Homo sapiens: one gene and its partner. The protein of the gene in region 1 interacts with the protein of each later gene in a biochemical or structural test. Each region holds a gene or a part of one and is shown in the gene's direction. Other genes may lie near its edges.

Region 1 (7,959 bases):
CTCTGCCTCCAGGTTTCAAGTGATTCTCCTGCCTCAGCCTCCCGAGTAGCTGGAATTACAGGCACCCGCTACCCGCCCAGCTAATTTTTGTATTTTTAGTAGAGACGGGGTTTCACCAGATTGGCCAGGCTAGTCTCGAACTCCTGACCTCAGGTGATCCACCCACCTTGGCCTCCCAAAGCGCTGGGATTATAGGCTTGAGCCACCGTGCCCGACCTGCTTTGTTTTAATCTTTGTTTTAACAGACTATGAAAGAAAACCCATGCATTCATATCAATACCTACAGCAAAGCATTTGACAAAATTCAACATCTTTTTGTGATGAAAATGCTCAGTAAACTAGCAACAAAAATAACTTTCCCTAACTAGACTAAAGGCATTTATTAAAAACCTACAGCTAACATCATATTTAATGGTGAAAAATTGTTTTTTCTTACAACTCAGAATAAGGCAAGGATGTTTGCTTTCACCACTTCCACTTAATATTGTACTGGAGGTTATAGTCAATGCAATAAGGCAAAGAAAGGAAGAGAGGGAGGGAGGGAGGCAAGGAAAAAAGGAAGAAAGAAAGAAAGTGTGGCATAGTACACAATGAAATACCATTTGACCATAAAAAAGAAAGAAGTCATGTCATTTGTAGCCACATGGAGGTTGCTATATTAAGGTAAATAAGATAGGCACAGGAAGACAAATACCACATGTTCTTGCTCACATGTGAATGCTAAAGAACATTGATATCGTAGACATAGAGAATAGAATGATATATACCAGAAACTGAGAAGGGTGGTGGGTGGATGAAGAAAAGTTGGCTAATGGGTACAAACACACAGTTAGATAGAAGAAATAAATTTTAATGTCTTTTTTTTTTCCTTTTTGTGGAGAGAAGTCTCCATACGTTGCCCAGGATTGTCTCAAACTCCTGGGCTCAAGCAACCCTCCCAGTTTAGCTTCCTAAAGTGCTGAGATTACAGGTGTGAGCCACTGCACCTGGCAAGTTCTAATGTTTTATAGCATGATAAGGTGACTATACTTGGGTGACAATATTTAGCATATTTCAAAGTAACTATTAATAGAAGAGAGGACATGAAATGATACTGACACATAGAAAGGACATATATCCAAGGTGATGGATACCCCAGTTACCCTGACTTAATCATTACCCATTCTATGCATGCAACAAACACTCACATGTACGCCATAAATTATGTAAAATATTATATATTAATAAAAGAAAAAAAATTAGGCCGGGCATGGTGGCTCATGCCTTTAATCCCAGTACTTTGGGAGGCTGAGACAGGAGGATTGCTTGAGCCCAGGAGTTCCAGACCAGCTTGGGCAACATAGTGAGACCCCATCTCTACAAAAATAAAATATTAGCCAGGTGTGGTGGCACACGTCTGTGGTCACAGCTACTCGGGGCTGAGGTGAGAGGATTGCTAGGGGGCTGAGGTGAGAGGATTGCTTGGGGCCAGGAGGTGGAGGCTGCAATGAGCCATGATTGTGCCTCTGCACTCCAGCCTGGGTGACAGAGCAAGACCCTGTCTCAAAAAAATATATATGTCAAAAAATGTATATATGTGTATATATATATTTATGTGTATGTATATATGTGTGTGTGTGTATATATATATATGTTTAAGTTAAAGATGGGGGGAAAAAAAGGAAGGGGCATATAGATTGGAAAGGAAGTATTAAAACTTTGTTTCAGGTGACATGATCCTCTATGTAGAAAATTCTAGCCGGGTGTGGTGGCTCACACCTGTAATCCCAGCACTTTAGGAGGCTGAGGCGGGCGGATCACGAAGCCAGGAGATCGAGACCATCCTGCTAACATGGTGAAACCCTGTCTAAAAATACAAAAAAATTATCTGGGCCTGGTGGCGCGTGCCTGTAGTCCCAGCTACTCGGGAGGCTGAGGCAGGAGAATGGCGTGAGCCCAGGAGGTGGAGCTTGCAGTGAGCTGAGATACCGCCCCTGCACTCCAGCCTGGGTGACAGAGCGAGACTCCGTCTCAAAAAAAAAAAAAAAAAAAAAAGAAAAGAAAATTCCAAGAATGCCACAAAAAGGCTACTAGAATTAATAAGTGAGTTTAGCAAGGTTATAGGACACAGTACAAAGTCAAAATACAAAAATATGTTTTTTTTATATACTAGCAAAGTTCCATTGGAAATCTCTTAAAACAACATTTTCTATTATATGTACCTGCCAGTTCTTAACATTTATTATCAGAAGTAACTAATTAAATTATTCTTTGTCATTCTTCTAGGGGAACTTATGACATTTTAGTAACAAAAGATAATCAAACCCGCTCTGTTGGTCAATATGACAACCGTGGCAGTTTTGGAGAACTAGCTCTGATGTACAACACCCCGAGAGCTGCTACCATTGTTGCTACCTCAGAAGGCTCCCTTTGGGGACTGGTGAGTGAGAGAAATCGTTCCCCTTGCAAGGCACAGTATTAATTCCCTTTCTGTGTCTCTGTCCTTGGGCTGTTGATTTACACTATATCTTACAGCCATCCTGGCTAACACGGTGAAACCCCATCTCTACTAAAAAATACAAAAAAAATAGCCAGGTGTGGTGGTGGGCATGTGTAGTCCCAGCTAGTTGGGAGGCTGAGACAGGAGAATGGCGTGAACTCGGGAGGTGGAGCTTGCAGTGAGCCGAGATCGCGCCACTGTACTCCAGCCTGGGCGACACAGCGAGACTCCGTCTCAAAAAAAAAAGCACTTTATTGTGACATCCTGATGTTAAATTAAGAGTGCTCCTGAAAGAGATACAGTGACTTAAGGATAGGTCACACACTTGGGGACTCAATGATTGAAAAACTCAAGAATAGATTTGTATAGGGGAATAATAAATAATGGGGGCCAGGCACGGTGACTCACACCTGTAATCCCAGCACTTGGGGAGGCCAAGGCGGGAAGATCACTTGAGGTCAGGAGTTCGAGACCAGCCTGAGCAACATGGTAAAACCGTGTCTCTACTAAAAATATGAAAATTGGCCAGTCATGGTGATGGGCGCCTGTAGTCCCAGGAGGCGGAGGTTGCAGTGAGCCAAGATCACGCCACTGCACTCTAGCCTGGGCGACTGAGCAAGACTCCATCTCAAAAAATACAAAATCAAATAATAAGCCTTGGTGCTAACTACTGGTTCAGACCAAGATGGAATAGCCCTATTCCATGCTAGTGTTCTCACTTAAAAACTTAAACACACACACAAACAACTATGGACATAATAGAGCAAACATAGGAAGACTCTGAAAGGTGGAAAGAAGAAGGCAGACTATCTAGGGATATTGGGGCTTGAGGAAAGACATGACAGTGAGTTCCCAGGTTCCCATATATCCCAGATGGGGTGCTGGAAAGCCTGAAATCCAGATCTTCTAACAGGTATATTCAACAAAAGCAAAACTCCATCTCAAAAACAAAACAAAACAAAAGAACGAACAGCTAAACAGAAAATCAGCTAGTGTCAGCTAGGATATAGAAGAACTTAACACCATTAATTAACAAAAGCTATCTGAAATTTATAGAACACTGCACACAGCAACAACAGAATGAACATTTTTTTCAAGCCCATGGAACATTCACCCAAATAGGCCATATCCTGGAATATAAAATAAAACTTAAAAAATGTAAAAGATTTGAAATCAGGCCAACCACAGTGGCTCAAGCCTGTTATCCCAGCACTTTGGGAGGTTGAGGTGGGAGGATTGAGTCCAGGAATTTGAGACCTACCTGGGCAGCATAGTGAGACCACATCTCTATTTAAAATTTTAAGAAATAATGAAAATTTAAAGAAAAAATGAAATCAGAATGTGTTCTCTAACTACAATTGAAAGAAAGAAACTAAAAATCAATAACAGATCTCCAGACACTTAGAAATTAAATAACATTGTTTTTGGTGTGAGCAGGGGCTAACTGCAGCCTTGACCTCCTGAGCTCAAGCAATCCTCCCACCTCAGCCTCCCAAGTAGCTGGGACTACAGGTGTGCACCACCACACCTGTCTTTTTGTTGTTGTTGTTGTTGAGACAGAGTCTCACTATGTTGCTCAGGCTGGTCTTGAACTTCTGGGCTCAAGCAGTCCTCCTGCCTTGGCCTCCCAAAGTGCTGGAATTACAGGCATGAGCCACTGTGCCCAGCCAAATAACACATTCTTTCTTTTTTTTCTTTTTTGAGATGATCTTGGCTCACTGCAACCTCTGCCTCCTGGGTTCAAGCGATTCTCCTACCTCGGCCTCCTGAGTAGCTGGGATTACAGACGTGTGCACATGTGCCACCACGCCCAGCCAATTTTTGTATTTTTAGTAGAAATGGAGTTTCACCATGTTGGCCAGGCTGGTCTCGAACTCCTGACCTCAGGTGATCTGCCCACCTCGGCCTCCCAAAGTGCTGGGATTACAGGCAAGAGCCACCGCACCCGGCCAAATAACCCATTCTTGGATAATCTCTAAGACCAAGTCTCAATGAAAATTGAAAACTGTATATTGAGCTGTAAAACCACCTGCTTTGTGGCTGGGGTATGAGGATTAAATACATGGGCATAAGAGAAGTGACTCCCTTAGTGCCTGGTACAAGGTGGGTGTTCACAGAATGATGGCACAAGCTCCCCATGGCCATGGTGCTACTCACCACCCTTCTTTTCCTGAGACTTCCTTTCCTAAGACTCCTATTCTTTCTATTTCCTTGCCTTTGGCAGTCATTTCCTCTTCTCCTTGCTTTCTTAGGTCAGTGACCTATCAAGATATCCTTTTGGCCTCTACTTTTCTCCTGTTAATTGACTTGCTTTGCAAGCCCAGACTCTTCCAAAGCTTCAATACCACCTCTAGGAAAGTAACTCACAGAAGGTCCTCTCCAGCCTGACTTCTTCTTTGGCCTTGGAAATGCCTTCTGAGGTTGAAGTAGGGAGGATCTGGTGTCGTCACTGAGTTTTTCAAGTTGGATCCTACATTCCTGCTTTTATAATGGGCAGCTGCCATCACGGCCCCTATACGTAGTCTCTTTTGCTTTCTCTTGCTTTATTGAAAGTCAATAGAAGGTTTCCTGGGAAATTCCTGCAGTCACAGGAGAGAGTAGCACTCCTTTTCTCTTTTGAACTTCAGGGGTGTTTGCTTGCCTCTGACCACTTGCTGCCTGTGGGAATTTCCTCTTCACTGCTCGATTGGATGCTCATCAAAGGCTATGTTGATGTCTGGTGCTTTTTTTATATTCTCCACAGCCATGGGAACTGGCCTTGCACCACATGAAAAGAGAGTTTTGGGAAGTGTTAAAGCATGCGTAAAAAGGGGTAGAACCAGCTGGGTGTGGTGACTCATGATGTAATCCCAGTACTTTGGGAGGCCACGGTGGGCAAATCACATGAGCCTAGGAATTCAAGACCAGCATGGGCAACGTGGTGAAACCCTGTCTCTATGAAAAATAAGAAATTAGCTGATGTGGCGGCACATGCCTGTAGTCCCAGCTACTTGGGACGCTGAGTTGGGAGGATCACCTGGGCCTAAGAGGTCAAGGCTGCAGTGAGCTGTGATCATGCCACTACACTCCAGCCTGCTGAGTGACAGAGTGAGACTCTGTCTCAAAAAAAAAAAGTCGCTTGCCGGGCGTAGTGGCTCGTGCCTGTAATCCCAGCACTTCGGAGGCCAAGGTGGGCAGATCACCTGAGGTCAGGAGTTGGAGACCAGCCTGACAAACATGGAGAAACCCTGTCTCTACTAAAAAATACAAAATTAGCTGGGCATGGTGGCGCATGCCTATAATCCTAGCTACTCTGGAAGCCAAGGCAGGAGAATCACTTGAACCTGGGAGACGGAGGTTGCGGTGAGGCAAGATTGCGCCATTGCACTCCAACCTGGTCAACAAGAACGAAACTCCATCTCAAAAAAAAAAAAAGTCGCTGTAAGAGATATTTGTTGTGGTCGGGCACAGTGGCTCACGCCTGTAATACCAGCACTTTGGGAGGCCAAGGCGGGCGGATCATGAGGTCAGGAGATTGAGACCATCCTGGCTAACACGGTGAAACCCCGTCTCTACTAAAAATACAAAAAATTAGCCGGGCGCGGTGGCAGGCGCCTGTAGCCCCAGCTACTCAGGAGGCTGAAGCAGGAGAATGGCGTGAACCAGGGAGGCGGAGCTTGCAGTGAGCCGAGATTGTGCCACTGCACTCCAGCCTGGGTGGCAGAGCGAGACTCTGTCTCAAAAAAGAAAAAAAAAAAGAAAGATATTTGTTGTTTTCTCTTTAGTTAGAAATCTGTTGTTGTTGTTGTTGTTTTTGAGATGGACTCTTGCTCTGTCATCCAGGCTGGAGTCCAGTGGCATTATCTCGGCTCACTGCAACCTCCGCCTCCAGGATTCAAGCAATTCTCCTGCCTCAGCCTCCTGCATAGCTGGGATTATAGGCATGTGCCAACAGTACTGGCTAATTTTTTATATTTTTGGTAGAGATGGGAATTCACCATGTTGGCTAGGCTGGTTTCGAACTCCTGACCTCAAGTGATCCACCCACCTCAGCCTCCCAAAGTGCTGGGATTACAGGCGTGAGCCATGCGCCCAGCCGAAATATTGTTTGCTATTGCAATTGTACTAATCTTTGTTACACTGTAGGTGGATTTGTAAAATATTGGGAGTTAACTTTGCTGCCCTCTGTGTATTTTTTAATATTTATTTATTTATTTATTTTGAGACGGAGTCTCTGTTGCCCAGGCTGGAGTATAGTGGTGTGATCTCGGCTCACTGCATCCTCTGCCTCCAGGGTTCAAGTAATTCTCATGCCTCAGCCTCCCAAGTAGCTGGGACTATAGGTGTACACCACCATGCCCAGCTAATTTTTGTATTTGTAGTAGACACGAGATTTCACCATGTTGGCCAGGCTGGTCTCGAACTCCTGACCTCAAGTGATCCACCCACTTTGGCCTCCCAAAATGCTGGGATTATAGGTGTGAGCCACTGTGCCAGGCCTTTTATTTTATCTATCTATGTATCTATGTATGTGTGTGTGTGTGTCTGTCTGTCTGTCTCTCTGTCTGTCTATATCTATCTATCTATCTATCTATCTATCTATCTATCTATCTATCTATCTTTTGAGACGGTCTCACTCTGTTGGCCAGGCTGGAGTGCAGTGGTGCTCTCACACCTCACTGCAACTTCGCCTCCCAGGGCTCAAGCAATCCTCCCACCTCTGCCTCCCCAGTAACTGGGACCACAAGTGCACGCCACCACGCCTGGCTAATTTTTGTATTTTTTGTACAGATGGGTTTCGCCATGTTGCCCAGGCTGTTCTCAAACTTCTGGGCTCAAACAATCCACCCACCTCCCCACCTCAGCCTCCCAAAGTGCTGGGAATACAGTCGTGAGCCACTGTTCCCAGCCTGTATGGGTTTTTTTTAAATAAATAAATAAAATATTGGGGTTTTCTGTTTTTGTGGGGTTTTTTTGTTTGTTTTTTTTTTTGAGATGGAGTCTCGCTCTGTCTCCCAGGCTAGAGTGCAGTGGTGTGATCTTGGCTCACTGCAACCTCCACCTCCCAGGTTCAAGCGATTCTCCTGTCTCAGCCTCCCTAGTAGCTGGGACTGCAGGCGCGTGCCGCCATGCCCAGCTAATTTTTTGTATTTTTAGTAGAGACGGGGTTTCATTGTGTTAGCCAGGATGGTCTCGATCTCCTGACCTTGTGATCCACCCGCCTCAGCCTCCCAAAGTGCTGGGATTATAGGTGTGAGCCACTGCGTCCAGCCTGTTTTTGTGTTTTAAATAGAGTTGAGGTCTCATTGTGTTGCCCAGGCTGGTCTTGAATTCCTAGCCTCAAGCGATCCTCCTGCCTTGGCCTCCCAAAGTGCAGGGATTACAGGCATGAACCACCACACACAGCCTAAAATATTGTTTTGTTTTTGTTTTTTTCGAGGCAGGGTCTCGCTCTGTTACCCAGGCTGGAGTGCAGTGGCATGATCTCGGCTCACTGCAAC
Region 2 (7,959 bases), on another chromosome or scaffold:
TGGAAAAAAATTAGAAATTTTAGAAAAAAGTACACCCTTTGGAACTAGGTAGCGTTCAGATCTCCACACTTCCATTGACTAGTTGCATAGCCTCTCAGAGCTTCAGTTTCCTACTCCATAAGCGTTAGTAACAGTGTTCTTAGGAATCAGTGAAACTATGTGAGGTACTTAACTACAGTATCTAACATGGAGTAGGCAGCTATTACCTAGTAGCTGTAATGATAATAATTTTGGTACATTTTTACATGACTTAAGCATTCTTAAAAGTCTGATGCTTCTGAGTGTAGAGGTTTAGCTATTTCTTTCATAAAGAAGGGGCCTTGAGACTTGTGAGTCTTATCGAAGTCTATTTCTTCAAAGGTGCCAGATGAACTGAAGGATAATGGAAACAATAGCGAGTTTATCTTCTCAGTCACCTGTGAGTCTTCCTTTGAGAGTGGGACTTGCAGAGTGGCTTGGTAGGGTAGAGCTCTTTGTGACTATGCTATTTGGGCAACAGTGAGAGATGGATTGTTTTCAGTACATCAGTCATAAGAGGATATGAGTTCCAACTTTATTTTACCTTAGTCTTGGCAAATAAGTGTGGATTGTGTCTGTATTTCTCAAACTTGTTTAAGGTAGAGCTGGACTGGGTGTTAACAGTGTTAGTTCAGTACAGAGACATGAGCAAATCACTCACTTCCTCTTCAAGATAACACTTTAAAGGTGACACCATTTACAGAAGAAGGCAGTGATTTAAATCAGTTATACTAGCATAGTTTAGAATACTTACACTACCTAGATGGAGTAGATACATTCTAGAAATATTTACCTGTTAAGGACATTTCTTTAGATTTTATTCCATCTTTCCATTAGTTTTCTGATGAAGAGATTATAGTAAACCTTTAAAAATTATATTTGATCAAACTTACAGATTGAGGATAAACCTTTAAAAATTACAGTTGGTCACACTTACAGATTGAGGGTAAAAACATTCCTGACAAAGCTAGGCGAAGAAAGTTGGACTTTTGATGTTCCCTTCTTTTAAAGTTAACATCTGGCACTTGAATAGACTTGGTTATTACTGATGGGGACAGGCATCCATTTGGAAGTAGCTTCCCTCTCTCTTTCCCAGGTTAGGCTGTCTTACTGCTGTAAATGGGGAGAGACGAGAAAGCTGTGGGTGGAAGAAAGTTTGTTTCATAGCCTGGCGCAGTGGCTCACGCCTGTAATCCCAGCACTTTGGGAGGCTGAGGCGGGCGGATCACTTGAGGTCAGGAGTTCAAGACCAGCCTGGCCAACATGGTGAAACCACATCTCTACTAAAAATACAAAAACTAGCCCGGCAGGGTGGCAGGTGCCTGTAATCCCAGCTACTTGGGAGGCTGAGGCAGGAGAATCGCTTGAACCCGGGAGGTGGAGGTTGCAATGAGCCGAGATCATGCCACTGTGCTCCAGTCTGGGCGACAGAGCGAGACTCCGTCTGAAAAAAAAAAAAAAAAAGGTTTGTTTCATGCATCTGTCCTCACTGGTCAGTGGAAGAAAGTTTGTTTCCTGCGTTTGTCCTCATATTTATAGTTTTCTCGTCCACCTACAAGTTGATTGTGACGTTATGAATAGAAGATGAATGGATAATGTGTTTTTGTCAGACCTTGCTGTAAGGATGGACCTGGTACTGAAATACCGTGATTGTATGAACATTTGTGTGGGGCAATGCTGTGTTCAGTGCCTGGGGAATGTGGATATCAGTGTGTTTGTATGATATGGGTGCTAGTATGGGAGAGAAGGAAAACGTGTGAGGTTTTTGACCATTTATGTCACTCTGTAAGCTCTTCTCTGGCTACTTTGGTGCTATAGTAGCAGAGTTGAGTAGTTACAACAGAGACCATGTGATCTGCAAAGCAGAAAATATTTACTATCTGGGCTTTTACAGAAGTTTGCTGACCCTTTTTCTACATAACCAACTGCAGTTATTCACAACAAGAAAGATTAACGTTAATTCTATAATATTATTCAATACCTATTCAACTTTCTCTATTTGTCTCCCAAATATCTTTTATAGTTGATTAAGAAAAATTTTGGACAGAGTAAAATTAAAGTTCACTCAGCACATCATTATGTCTCTTTAGTCTCTATTTTTTCATTCTTTAATTATTCATATGTATAGTTTACATTCACTAAAATTCCGCCATTTTAGTGTAACATTCTCTGAGTTTTGACAGGTGTATACATTCATATATCCACTGCTGCAAACAGGACAGTCCCTTCATCCTCCAGAATTCTTCTGAGCCCTTTTGTACTCAACCGGTTCTCTACCCCCAGACTCTGGAAATTGCTGATCTGTTTTCTGTCTCCATGGTTTTTTGCCTTTTCAAGAATGTTGTAAAAATGGAATCACACGGAATGTAGCCTTTTTATTCATTTGCCCAATGACTAATGATATTAAGTATCTTTTCATCTGATTATTTGTCATTCTTTGATGTCAATTCAAAATCTTTTGCTTAAAAAATGAGTTTTTGTATATACTTTGGAATCAAATACATGATTTGCAGATATTTTCTCCTAGTCTGTTTTTACTTGTCTTAATAATGTCTTTTTTTGTTTGTTTGTTTCGAGATGGAGTTTGGCTCTGTCACCTAGGCTGGAGTACAGTGGTGAGATCTTGGCTCACTGCAACGTCTGCCTCCTGGGTTCAAGTGATTCTCCTGCCTTAACCTCCCGAGTAGCTGGGATTACAGGCACACACCACCACACCCAGCTAATTTTTGTATTTTAGTAGAGATGGGGCTTTTCCATGTTGGCCAGGCTGATCTTGAACTCCTAACCTCAAGTGATCTGCCTGCCTCGGCCTCCCAAAGTGCTGGGATTACAGGCGCGAGCCACTGTGTCTGGCCTTCTTGTCTTAATAATGTCTTTTGAAGAGCAGAAGTTCTTAATTTTTATGATATCCAGTGTTTTTTTGTTTTTTTGTTTTTTCCCTGAGTGGATCATGCTTTTGGTATAATAGTTTAGAAATCTTTGCCTAACTTAAGAGCTCAAAGACTTTCCCCTATATTTCCTCCTACAAGTTATTATTTTTTTTTTTAGAGATGGAGTCTCACTCTGTCATCCAGGCTGGCGTGAGTGAGATCTTGTTCACTGGAATCTCCGCCTCCCGGGTTCAAGTGATTCTCCTGCCTCAGCCTCCTGAGTAGCTGGGATTACAGGCACCCACCACCATGCCTAATTTTTGTATTTTTACTAGTGATGGGGTTTCACCATGTTGACCAGGGTGGTCTGAACTCCTGACCTCAAGTGAGCCACCCACCGCAGCCTCCCAAAGTGCTGGGATTACAGGCGTGAGCTATTGTGCCCGGCTCGCCTAGAAGTTTTATCATTTAAAATTTTATATTTACATTTATTATCTGCTTTGATTTAATTTTCCTAAATGGTGCAAGGTATGCATTGAGTTTATTTTTTTGTGGATGGATTTACAATTTTTCCAGCAACAGTTTTTGAAAAGACTGTCCTTTCTCTGTTGATTACCTTTGTGCCTTTTTTTTTTTGCAAGTTGATCATAAATGTGTGGTTTTGTTTCTGGATTCTCTCTCCTATTCCATTGATCTGTGTCTTTCATTTCTCTATCACCTCACTGTTGATTACTGTCACCTTAGAGTAAGTTTTAAAATCAGGTAGTGTGAGTTATCTTATTATTTTTCAGAATTGTTTTTTGGGTATTTTAGTTGCATTGCCTTTTGTGCATATTTTAGATTCATCTTGCTGTTATCCACAAGTCCTGCTGGGTTTTTCTTTTTCTTTTTTTTCTTTTTTAAGATGAGGTCTCAGCCGGGTGTGGTGGCTCACGCCTGTAATCCTAGCACTTTGGAGGCTGAGGCGGGTGGATCACCTGAGATCAGGAGTTCGAGACCAGCCTGGCTGACATGGCAAAACCCCGTCTCTACTAAAAAATACAAAAAATAGCTGGGCGTGGTGGTGGGCGCCTGTAATCCCAGCTACTTGGGAGGCTGAGACAGGAGAATTGCTTTAGCCCGGGAGATGGAGGTTACAGTGAGCCGACATTGCGCCACTTTACTCCAGCCTGGGTGATAGAACGAGAGTCCGTCTTAAAAAAACAAAAAAAGATAGGGTCTCACTCAGTTGTCCAGTGTGGAATGCAGTGGTAGGATAACCACTCACTGCAGCCTTGATCTCCTGGGCCCAAGCGATTCTCCCACGTCAGCCTCCCAAGTAGTTGGGATCACAGTCATGCACTACCTGGCTAATTTTTTTATTTTTGTAGAGACAGAGTCTCTCTATGTTGCCCAGGCTGGCCTCAAACTCCCGGGATGAAGTGATCCTCCCACTGTGGCCTCCCAAAGTGTAGGGATTACAGGCATGACCCACCATGCCCAGCCTGCTGTGGTTTTTGATTGGCATTGTGTTGAAGCTGGAAATCAGTTAGGGGGCAATTGACATTTTAATAATGAGCCATGAACATGGTATATCTATTTAGACCTTAGATTTTTGATTAGTGTTTTGTAGTTTTTAGCAATTGGATCTTGCATGTGTTTTGTAATCTTATACATGTATTTCATGTATTCTGGTGTTGTTGTGAATGATACTTCTCAATTTCCAGTTGCTCATTGCTGGTATATAGAAAGATCATTTTATATTATTTGCTGACCTTGGATCCTACACCCTTGCTAAACTCATTTTTAGTAATAGAAGCTTTTTTTGTAGATTTTTGGAATTTTCTGCATAGACATTATTGTCATTGGCAAATAAGGGCAGTTTGATTTCTTCGTTTTCACTTTGTATACTTTCATTTCCTTTTTTTTTTTTTGAGATAGAGACTCGCTCTGTCACCCAGGCTGGAGTGCAGTGGTGCGATCTCAGCTCACTGCAACCTGTGGCCCCCCAGGTTCAAGTGATTCTCGTGCCTCAGCCTCCTAAGTAGCTGGGATTACAGGTGCATGTTGTCATGCCCGGCTAATTTTTGTATTTTTTTTTTTTTAAGTGGAGACTGGGTTTCACCATGTTGGCCAGGCTGGTCTCAAACTCCTGACCACAAGTGATCCGCCAGCCTCAGCCTCCCAAAGTGCTAGGATTACAGGCGTGAGCTACAGCGCTGGGCGTGATTTCTTTTTGTTACTTTGCTGAACTATCTAGGACCCTCAGTGTAATGTGTAATAGGAGTTTTACAAGTGGACATCCTTTCCTTTTTCCTGATGTTAGAGGGGAAAACACTGAGTGTTTGACCATTAATATGATGGTAGCCATAGGTGTTTGTTTTTGTAGATGTCTTTTATCAAGTTGAGGAAATTGTCTTCTATGTTTAGTTTGCTGAGAGTTTTTATCATGAATAGATATTGAATGTTGTCAAAGGTTTTTCTGTATTTATTGACATAATCATATGTTTTTTCTTCTTTAGTCTGGTGTAATACGTTGAAATAGCTTTGCATTCTTGTGATAATACTCATTTAGTCGTGATGTATTATTTTTTACATGTCTTTGGGTTCCATTTGCTACTGAATCTTTTTTTATTTCTTCCATTTGTTTCCCGTTATGTTCATTTTAAAAATAGGTTCTTGATCATATGTATAATATTCATGATAGTTGTTGAGTCCTTATCTGTTAAATGTCAGATGTCTCCTTGGGGGTAAAGTTATTTCAAACACAAGAACCATTGCTTTAAAGAGTATCATACTTTGTTTTGGCAAGTTAAGTTGCCAAACTTATGTGTGTAAGTTGCTTGTTACACCCCATTACTAAGGCATGAAGCTCCTGTAGTTTTCATTGAAGAATTGGGCTCTCCTTGAGGACTCTATTCTGGCAGTTGAGAACACAAATGTCTCCCAGCCCTGTGTGAACTTTGGAGATCATTTAGCTTACAGTTCCTGGGTGATTCTTTGCGTGCCCTCATGTATTTTTACAATATGCATGCTTGGCTTACTACTGGGTGTGAGACTCATGGGGCCTCTATGCTGATTTCTGGAGCTCCTTTTTCATACAGCTCCCTCCTCTTCTCTCGTACTCTGCAATTTTCAAACTCCTTAGCCTTCCCAAGCTATGTTTGTTTTCTAAACTTGACAAGGCTGTCATGTTGTGCTTGATCCTCCTCATTGCACCATGGTCTAGAAGGTACCTCCAGCCAGAAAGCTGGGGCGATTTTAGGGCTTATCTCATTTGTTCCCTTCTCTTTGGGACTGCAGTTCTGTGCTACCTGTTGTTCAGGCTCTAAAGGATGCTGCCTCATGCATTTTGTCCACTTTTCTAGTAGTTAGGGAGGATGCCAGGATAAATCTGGATCCAGTTACTCCGTCATGGTTAGCAGCTGAAGTCCTTTGGGTGAGTATGCTTTGTTGGTGGTTCTTAAAATTTCATTACAGGATTCTCAAAATCTTTGGGGGTATAAATAACAAAGAAGTATTTGTTGACTATCTTCTGACAGTAGCTCAGCCATTGCTTTGTGGGAAATACAAAACAATGTAGGTATCTTTTAGTTGAAGAGGCACATGGTACATACCTAAGATTAATCAAAGAAATGAATTGCTATGGTGATGAACAGAAAGAGAAGGATCACTATAATCTATTATTTTCTGTCCCCCCGTGGGGGAGTCTTCCAGTGAAAAGCAGAAAACCTGCTAGACAGATTCTAAAAGATCTGTAACACTTGTGATCTGGTGTTTTCATGTAGAAATGCTTGCTTTTGCGTTTTTGTTTCTTAGCATATATGCTTTATGTCGCAAGTTGTAGTGAGTCAGTGGGTAGAGTGCTGGCTCTTTCAGGTGCATTTGCTATTTATTTACTATGCAGCTTTAGGTAAGTTATTTGTCTCTGAAATCTAATCTTCTCTTTTCTCTTGGCAAATGGTTATATGACATACCTTGTAGGGTTGTTTGTTAATTTTTTCAAGTATCTTTTGTTTGTCAGGCACGGTTCTAGGTAATGGGAATTCAGTGACATCTGTAGTTGCTGCCGTTAATCTATATCCTATTGAGGGAAGTAGAAAATAAACGAGTGAACAAACAATTGCAGTCATGTCTGGTGGTGATGATTCTAGGAAGGATATGAAGAGTATTAGCAGAGATTGGGGAGGTCAGACAAGGCCTTACTGAGGAGGTGAGATTTGAACAGACCTGAAGAAAGTCAAGGGAGCAAGTCACATGAAGATTCAGAGGAAGTATGGAAGGAACATCAAGTGCAAAGGACCTGAGATGGGAGAATGAACAGGGAGCCTGGTGTGGCTGGAATGGGTGAGAAAGAGCGTGAGGAGATAAGGTTTGTATGTGTAGCCAGAGACCAGATCAAATAGGCTCTTAGGTATGGTGGGAAACAGCTGAAGGATTTGAGCAAGGCATGACAAGGTTGATTTAGGCTTTAAAAACTTTACTCTTGGCATAGGGAGCAGTAGTGGAAACGGAGAGACTAGTTAAGAGATTTGCAGTCGTTCAGGCTAGAGAAGATGGTGGCTTGGATTAGGGTGGTAGCAGCGAAAGTGGTGAGAAGCGGTTTGAATCCATATACGCTGAAAATAGAACTATAGGATTACTTACAGATTGGAAAAAGGTTCTAAAGGAAAGAAAGAAATTAAGGAGGATTCCTAGGTGTTTTACCTGAACAACTGGGTAAATGGGGAAGATGTGGAATCAGTTTGCTGAGAGGTTGAAATTGTGATTTCCCTGTTGACATGCTAAGTTTGAGATCTGTGAAATTTTTAAGTGAAGGTATCAGTAAGCATTTGGATATACAGTTCTGGAGTTCAGTGATGGTCTGGACTGGGTGTATGAATTAGAGAATTGTAGATAGAGAAGGGAGAGTGGGAGGTTTTAGTGGGAATTAGGGATATATAAAGCTCCATAATAGGGGCTCATGGCATAGTAGTTAATAATCATGACAGTCATAAAACAACCACCACTATGTATAGTAACTAAAGGAAGGCTAGATATGAATGAAGGAAGATGGTAGTGACCTAAAACAATTATCTTGCATATTATATCA

The links.
Region 2: the proteins of PRKAR2A (region 1) and AKAP13 form a complex in vitro, tested with the Homo sapiens proteins (3 studies listed by BioGRID, with this or other methods).

What each region holds. Positions count from the first base shown.
Region 1 is NC_000003.12:48,767,415-48,775,373, reverse strand, and holds part of PRKAR2A (cAMP-dependent protein kinase type II-alpha regulatory subunit), read left to right. Parts: intron 1-2,265; coding exon 2,266-2,419; intron 2,420-7,959. UniProt on the Homo sapiens protein: Regulatory subunit of the cAMP-dependent protein kinases involved in cAMP signaling in cells. Type II regulatory chains mediate membrane association by binding to anchoring proteins, including the MAP2 kinase.
Region 2 is NC_000015.10:85,383,252-85,391,210, forward strand, and holds part of AKAP13 (A-kinase anchor protein 13), read left to right. Parts: intron 1-424; exon of another isoform or gene 425-484; intron 485-811; exon of another isoform or gene 812-859; intron 860-955; exon of another isoform or gene 956-1,146; intron 1,147-7,959. UniProt on the Homo sapiens protein: Scaffold protein that plays an important role in assembling signaling complexes downstream of several types of G protein-coupled receptors.